Linked DNA regions of Homo sapiens. The protein of the gene in region 2 purifies or fractionates together with the protein of the main gene of each other region. This does not show direct contact. Each region holds a gene or a part of one and is shown on either strand. Other genes may lie near its edges.

Region 1 (3,747 bases), on a different chromosome or scaffold from region 2:
AAGCCTCCTTAGCATGGGTGTTCTCTCCTTGAAGTTTGGAGCTGTCCCTTTAGAAGGCAAGGGGATAGACTAGATGACCCGGAGCCCAGAGATTCCAGCACAAATTTGTTTCACATCACAAAATAGGTCTGGCCAGTTGGTACCCTCTACCTTCATTCAGTGGGAATGAACTTGAACTCAGCCCCTGAATCCTCAATACAGTCTATGAGGATCCTCAATACAGTCTTTGAGTGATTGATTCGTGATGTCTGCCATAGGTGTGGAAAGGGGCATGTGGCAAGCTGAGTTCTGTTTTGCCAGCCCTGTCTTAAGAGGTGCCCTGCTCAGGGGTGTTTGCATATTCACTGGAGACTTTTTTGTTTGTTTGTTTGTTTGTTTGTTTGTTTGTTTTTGAGACAGAGTTTTGCTCTTGTTGTCCAGGCTGGAGTGCAATGGCGCAATCTTGGCTCACTGCAACCTCCACCTCCCAGATTCAAGCGATTCTCCTGCCTCAATCTCCCAAGTAGCTAGGATTACAGGCATGTGCTACCATGCCTAGCTAATTTTGTATTTTTAGTAGAGACGGGGTTTCACCATGTTGGCCAGGCTGGTTGCGAACTCCTGACCTCAGGTGATCCACTGGTCTCGGCCTCCCAAAGTGCTGGGATTTACAGGTGTGAGCCACCACACCTGGCCAGGGACTCTTAAGAAGGATAATTTTGTTGTCAGTAAAGGATCAAAATCCTATCGGTGGTCTTTTGGGCAGTCCCATGGCAGCCTATCCCATGAGCCATCAGAGGACCTATTTGGGAACAAGGAGGAGCTTCTTTAAGTTATACCAACAATTGTACCTACTCTGACCACCCTACGTGTTGTCTGAAAATATACAGATTTGTTTCTAAATCCTGTGAGTGGGGAAGGAGTGGGTGACAAGACCAGAACTGGAGCTGGCACCAGGCTGACAGGCAGCACGTCCAGGTCTAGGGCCTTGAGTTCATGCACCCAGGTATGGCATGAAGTGAACTCTTAGGCCCAGAACCTGCCTGGGCAGATAGGCCAGGAGGCAGAGGCTGTGCTGGTGGCAGGTGGCAATCAGAAGACCTCATGGAGTAGGCAGTGTGGGCCTTGAGAAGAAGTAAAGCGTTAACCCAGGAAACACAGCAAAGAAGAGCATTCCAGTCAGAAGGAACAGCCTGGGCAAAAAGCCTGCTGCTGAGAGGAAGGGCATTGTGCATTTCAGGAACTCCTAGCTCTCCTCGAGGCTGGAAGGGGCAGGGAAGTGGAGGAGAGGAGAGCTGGCAGGGTGGGCAGGGGACAACCATGCTAGGCCTTAAGGGCTGGCTGAGGAGCTAGACTTCCTCCAGCAGGGAGTGGGGAGGCTGTTGGCAGAACCTGCAGGGAGAGGAACAGGTCTGGAACCCACAGAAGCCTATCCCAGGGCCAAACTGAGCCACAAACCAGGAGGAAGCAGAAGGGGCCAGGTCATAGCTGCCTGGCCAAACCCCATTCCCGAGCTCCCAGGGCCTCACCCTTCATCCTCCCAAAGTCTGTGGCCGCCAATACGCAACTTTAAATGCCTGAGCTCAAGTAGACCATTTGAGAGTCCCCACAGAGTTTGGGGGTCACTGGGTCCCAGCCCCAACCTGGACTGAGATTTGAGCTGTGGAATGGGAAAGCGGTGGGGAGAGCTGCCCAGGGCCACACACGGAGCTGGGTCTTCAGTGCCCCCACTCCAGCAGGCACACCTCCTGCATGTTCTAGGCCGGCTCCTCCCAGCGCCCTGCCCCTCATCCCTGACCCCAGGCCTCTGGGCTGGAGTCCAGAGGCTGCAGGAGGCTGGGCTGGGATCCTAGCTGAAAGCGGGTGTGCTGGGGGTCAGGGAGGAGAGCAGCCAGGCCTGCAAAGAGGAGCCCTGCAGGAGTTGGCCTGGGCAGGTGCCTGTGGTCAGGGGTGTGCACTTGTGAAGGCATGTTTGAGGGTGTCACAGGTCCATGAGGCCTGCAGATGTCATGTGTGTGTCCTGGACCTGGAGCCTTCCTCTGCCCCACCCCTGAGGCCCTCCAGCCTATTGAAAACCCCCTATACTGCAAAGCCCAGACTTGGCCCCTGGAATCTAAGGCTTGAGTGGGGCTCTGGTCAGGTCGAGGGGCAGGGGGTCCTCCTGGTGCTCAGGGGCAGGACCAGCCCAGGGGCTGAGGGGCTGGACCAGCCCATTGAGGGGCCCCCAGCTGGGTCCAGACTTCCTATGTCTTATTTAGCTACAAAGCCAGGGGTCCCAGGCAGTCCCAAGAAAAGCAGCTCTAGCCCTTCCCCTCCCCGCCCTTCCCTTCCCTTCCTCTTCTCTTGTATCCCTAGCCTCTCTTTTTGACACTGTAACTCAGCACAGAGCTGAGCCGATCTCACAGCCCCTTGGAGGCAGAACCCCAGAGAGATGGACGCCCACAAAGGGAAAGGGACCAAAGGGAGCTTTGTGTGATGTCCCACAGTGGCTCAGTGAGAGGCAGGACTCACTCCTGGGACTGTGGTCCTCAGACCCATCAGGGCCCTCCCAGTCTGTATGCTCCCACAGCCTCCTCGATTTGTCCATCAAAGCACATGTCACAATTTCAAACTGCATTTTTCACCACATGACCGGCATCCCTCTCTCCCACGGAAGTGGAGCCTGTGTTTATTCCTGCATGGAATTAAGTGCCTGGCACATAGTAGATGCTCAATAAATGTTTGCTGCATGACTGTATAACCCCAGGACTCTAGAGAGAGCTTCAGAGAAGTGGTGACATGTGTCCTAAATCCAGGCAGAGGAGAGAGGACAGCAAGTGCACGGGCAGGGAGGATGCAACCAAACCTGGTGGGGTGGGGAGCTTCCCAGAGAGTTAACGTCCTGTGGGCCGGAGCTATGCCTGGAGGCTCACCAGGCACCTGCAGACCCAGACAGGCAGCTGGAGAGGAGCAGAAAGAGCCGCAGGAGCCCCAACCTTTTCTCAGGCTGCCCAGGTGACTCAGCCTTCGGAGGACCCCTCGGTCACCAGGCTTGGCCTAGGTGTCTAGGTTCTGATCCCAGTGGCCCCACCCACGGTAGATACAGACCTGGACCCCAGAGGCCTCTGCGGTCCCAACCTCCCATGGGAGCATGGTGGAGCCCAGTCGTCCCCCTTATTTTCCAAGGCTCCCCTGCTGTTTAATCCTGGGCTCCACGCCCACTCACCAGGGGATTCGGGCCACTCACTCCGTCCTCTCATTTTGGGTCCTCCAGACCTCCCCAGACTGAGGGAGGGTACAGAGGGCCCATCCTCCTCCATTTGGAACTGCCCCCAAACCCTCTCACATGGCTCTGGGGACAGCAGCATCGATAAGCATCCTGGATGCCTGGGACACTGCAGGTACCTGGCCTCGGCGTGCTCAGAACCTACATCTGAGTTGCCAAGCGTGGCCCCTCCCTGCTCACCACTGTGATCAGGCAGTTGCTGGGCTGCTCAGCTGGGAATTTCTGAACATGGAAATCACTTCCAAAATCCTCAGACCCTCTGAATGTCTGGGGTGCCCCAAATCTACCTGGCAACAGCTTGAGTCTCTCTGGAAACTGCTGAGAACGACCGAGAGATGTGACTCTTACCTGCCGAAAGGAAACAGGCTAAAATGAAAAAAGGGCTATGACCACATCTCCAGAGGCTGCAGCCAAGAGAAATTCAGTTTTCAGCTGTGGCTGCAGTAGATCTGACTGGCCCGGTTTCCTCTGCATCATGATGGGAAGGAACATCTGTCCAACAA
Region 2 (3,747 bases):
TCCACGTCAGACCACCAAGGCCAAGTACAAGACTCCCACATACCCCTACCTGCTTCCCAAGTCTACCAGCACGGCCAATCAGCTCCCCTTCACACTTCCAGGAGGGCAGTGCACCACCGTACAGGTGAGGCCCCCCACTTCAGCCAGCCCTCCCCTTTGTCTCCTTCAGCCTAACACCCCAACCCACTCTCCCTGGTGTGAGAGCTGCCCACACTCTCCTTTCCTGGGGTTAAGAAGCACATCACGGCCAGGCACGGTGGCTCACGCCTATAATCCCAGCACTTTGGAAGGCCAAGGCAGGCGGATCACAAGGTCCGGAGATCGAGACCATCCTGGCTAACATGGTGAAACCCCATCTCTACTAAAAATACAAAAAATTAGCCGGGCGTGGTGGTGCGTACCTGTAGTCCCAGCTACTAGGGAGGCTAAGGCAGGAGAATCGCTTGAACCCAGGAGGAGGATGTTGTAGTGAGCTGAGATCACGCCACTGCACTCCAGCCTGGGCAACAGAGTGAGACTCCATCTCAAAAATAAAATAAAAGGCCAGGCGCAGTGGCTTACGCCTGTAATCCCAGCACTTTGGGAGGCCGAGGCAGGCGGATCACGAGGTCCGGAGAGCAAGACCATCCTGGCTAACACCATGAAACCCTGTCTCTACTAAAAATACAAAAAATTAGCCGGGAGTGGTGGTGCGTACCTGTAGTCCCAGCTACTTAGGAGGCTGAGGCAGGAGAATGGCGTGAACCCAGGAGGAGGAGCTTGCAGTGAGCGGAGATCATGCCACTGCACTCCAGCCTAGGCAACAGAGCGAGACTCTGTCTTAAAAAAGAAAAGAAATGAAGCACATCGCATTCACCATTCCCTAGGTCTTGCGATCAGTGGACCGCTGGTCAGCAGGGACTCTGGAGAACTCCATCCTCAATGCCTACCTGCACACCATCAGGGAGAGCCAGCACTTCCTCTACATTGAGGTCTGACTGGGAGGAGGTGGGGGAGAGCATGGAAGGGGTGTCCCAGGAGAGAGACCTGGGGAATGAGTGGAGTCAGTCATTGAGGGCTGGTGGAGCAGAAGCAGACGCCTGGAGCCTGGGACCAAGGCTGGAGGCCGAGGACAGGGCCAGGGGCCAGGCTGCTGATGTCTGTCTCTGATTCTTGCCCCAGAATCAGTTCTTCATTAGCTGCTCAGATGGGCGGACGGTTCTGAACAAGGTGGGCGATGAGATTGTGGACAGAATCCTGAAGGCCCACAAGTAAGGTGGACTGTCAGGAAGGTGGGGACTGTGGGTGTGGTTTGAGCCCGGTTGAAGGGGGTGGGGTTTGAGGGACCAGTCGCACCTCTGACTCCACCCCCTCCCCAGACAGGGGTGGTGTTACCGAGTCTACGTGCTTTTGCCCTTACTCCCTGGCTTCGAGGGTGACATCTCCACGGGCGGTGGCAACTCCATCCAGGCCATTCTGCACTTTACTTACAGGTGACCCCCCAGGCGGACTCCAGCTCTCAGTGGCCCCATCCCACCCGTGTCCCCCTCCTGATTCTGTCCTGATCCCTTCCTGCTGGGCCTTAAAGAAGGGCCACCTCTCCTGACCTCCCCTCCCCTCTGCCAGCCTCCACTTCTCTCCCTCTTTCTTTTCTCTCAGGACCCTGTGTCGTGGGGAGTATTCAATCCTGCATCGCCTTAAAGCAGCCAGTGAGTGCTGGGGGCTGGGGGCTCAAGCCCTGGGCCCCTGGGAGAGGGAGATTGGGGCGCTGCAGGCCTGGGGGTGGGGGAAGGAGGCTGTCACTCCTGTGAGCCTCTGACGCTACGCAGACCATAGCTGGCCTTTCACTGCAGGGAGAAGGAGAGAGACCAGACTCTATGTAGGAAGAGTTTCTGGAGTGAGAGGAGGTGGGACAGGGCCCTGTGCACACAGAGCCACCTCTCACCTCACTTCCCCTCCTGTCACGCAGTGGGGACAGCATGGCGGGACTATATTTCCATCTGCGGGCTTCGTACACACGGAGAGCTGGGCGGGCACCCCGTCTCGGAGCTCATCTACATCCACAGCAAGGTGCTCATCGCAGATGACCGGACAGTCATCATTGGTCAGTGCCGGATCTAGTCCTCTGGCAGGGAGAGGGTGTGGGGACAGGCGAAGAGATGAGAGGCAGGATGACAGAGACTGCAGCTGAGGCTCGTGTAGGGGTGGAGGGTCCAAGAAGGAATGTTGCAGGCCAGTGCTTTGGTAGAGGGGATGGGGTACTGGGGAGAGTGCCCTGGGCCCAAGCACACAGTGTGCCCCGCATCCACCCCAGGTTCTGCAAACATCAATGACCGGAGCTTGCTGGGGAAGCGGGACAGTGAGCTGGCCGTGCTGATCGAGGACACAGAGACGGAACCATCCCTCATGAATGGGGCAGAGTATCAGGCGGGCAGGTTTGCCTTGAGTCTGCGGAAGCACTGCTTCGGGTAGAGCTGGGGCGGGATGCCACAGGGTGGGAGGGAGATGGGGGCGTCTGCCTTTTGAGCAGGACAAGAGGTAGCACCGCATAGGTACTCCCGGAGCCAGAGGTAGAGGCAGTACTAGATTCTCAATAGGCAAGGCTGGGCGCGGCAGCTCACGCCTCTAATCCCAGCACTTTGGGAGGCCAAGGCGGGTGGATTGCCTGAGGTCAGGATTTTGAGACCAGCCTGGCTAACATAGTGAAACCCGTCTCTACTAAAAATACAAAAAATCAGCTGGGTGTGGTGGCGGGCGCCTGTGATCCCAGCTACTAGGACTAATCAGTTTAGAGTATCAGTAAAGCAGGAACACCAAAAAACAAAAAGAGAAAAAAATCTTTTTTTTTTGAGACGGAGTTTTGCTCTTGTTGCCCAGGCTGGAGTGCAATGGCGAGATCTCAGCTCACTGCAACCTCTGCCCTGGGTTCAAGCGATTCTCCTGCCTCAGCCTCCCGAGTAGCTGGGATTACAGGCATGCGCCACCACGCCCAGCTAATTTTGTATTTTTAGTAGAGATGGGGTTTCGCCGTGTTGGTCAGGCTGGTCTCGAACTCCCGACCTCAGGTGATCCACCCACTTCAGCATTCCAAAGTGCTGGGATTACAGGCGTGAGCCACTGCACCTGGCCACGAAAAAGAAATCTTTTTTGTTGTTGTTGTTGTTGTTGTTGAGACACGGTTTCACTCTTGTCGCCCAGGCTGGAGTGCAATGGCACGATCCTGGCTCACTGCAACCTCCGCCTCCTGGGTTCAAGCAATTCTTCTGCCTCAGCCTCCGGAGTAGCTGGGATTACAGGCGCCCACCACCACGCCCAGCTAATTTTTGTATTTTTAGTAGAGACAGGGTTTCGCTGTGTTGGCCAGGCTGATCTTGAACTCCTGACCTCAGGCTTCGGCCTCCCAAAGTGCTGGGATTACAGGCATGAACCACCGCCCCTGGCCAAAAAAAAAAAAAAATCTTTTTTTTTTTTCTTTTTTTTTGAGAGGGAGTCTCACTGTCGCCCAGGCTGGAGTGCAGTGGCGCGATCTCGGCTCACTGCAGGCTCCGCCGCCCAGGGTTCATGCCATTCTCCTGCCTCAGCCTCCCGAGTAGCTGGGACTACAGGCACCCGCCACCTCGCCCGGCTAATTTTTTGTATTTTTAGTAGAGACGGGGTTTCACCGTGTTAGCCAGGATGGTCTAGATCTCTTGACCTCGTGATCTGCCCGCCTCCGCCTCCCAAAGTGCTGGGATTACAGGCATGAGCCACCACGCCCGGCCAAAAAAA

What was found. The genes of interacting proteins can lie anywhere in the genome.
Region 1: the proteins of PLD2 (region 2) and CDH5 purify together in Homo sapiens (affinity purification with mass spectrometry; 3 studies listed by BioGRID and IntAct, with this or other methods). This does not show direct contact.

Annotation. Positions count from the first base shown.
Region 1 is NC_000016.10:66,369,626-66,373,372, forward strand, and holds part of CDH5 (cadherin-5 preproprotein), read left to right. Parts: intron 1-3,531; exon of another isoform or gene 3,532-3,592; intron 3,593-3,747. UniProt on the Homo sapiens protein: Cadherins are calcium-dependent cell adhesion proteins. They preferentially interact with themselves in a homophilic manner in connecting cells; cadherins may thus contribute to the sorting of heterogeneous cell types.
Region 2 is NC_000017.11:4,817,136-4,820,882, forward strand, and holds part of PLD2 (phospholipase D2), read left to right. Parts: coding exon of another isoform or gene 1-10; coding exon 11-124; intron 125-866; coding exon 867-971; intron 972-1,161; coding exon 1,162-1,250; intron 1,251-1,358; coding exon 1,359-1,472; intron 1,473-1,638; coding exon 1,639-1,688; intron 1,689-1,948; coding exon 1,949-2,083; intron 2,084-2,293; coding exon 2,294-2,447; intron 2,448-3,747.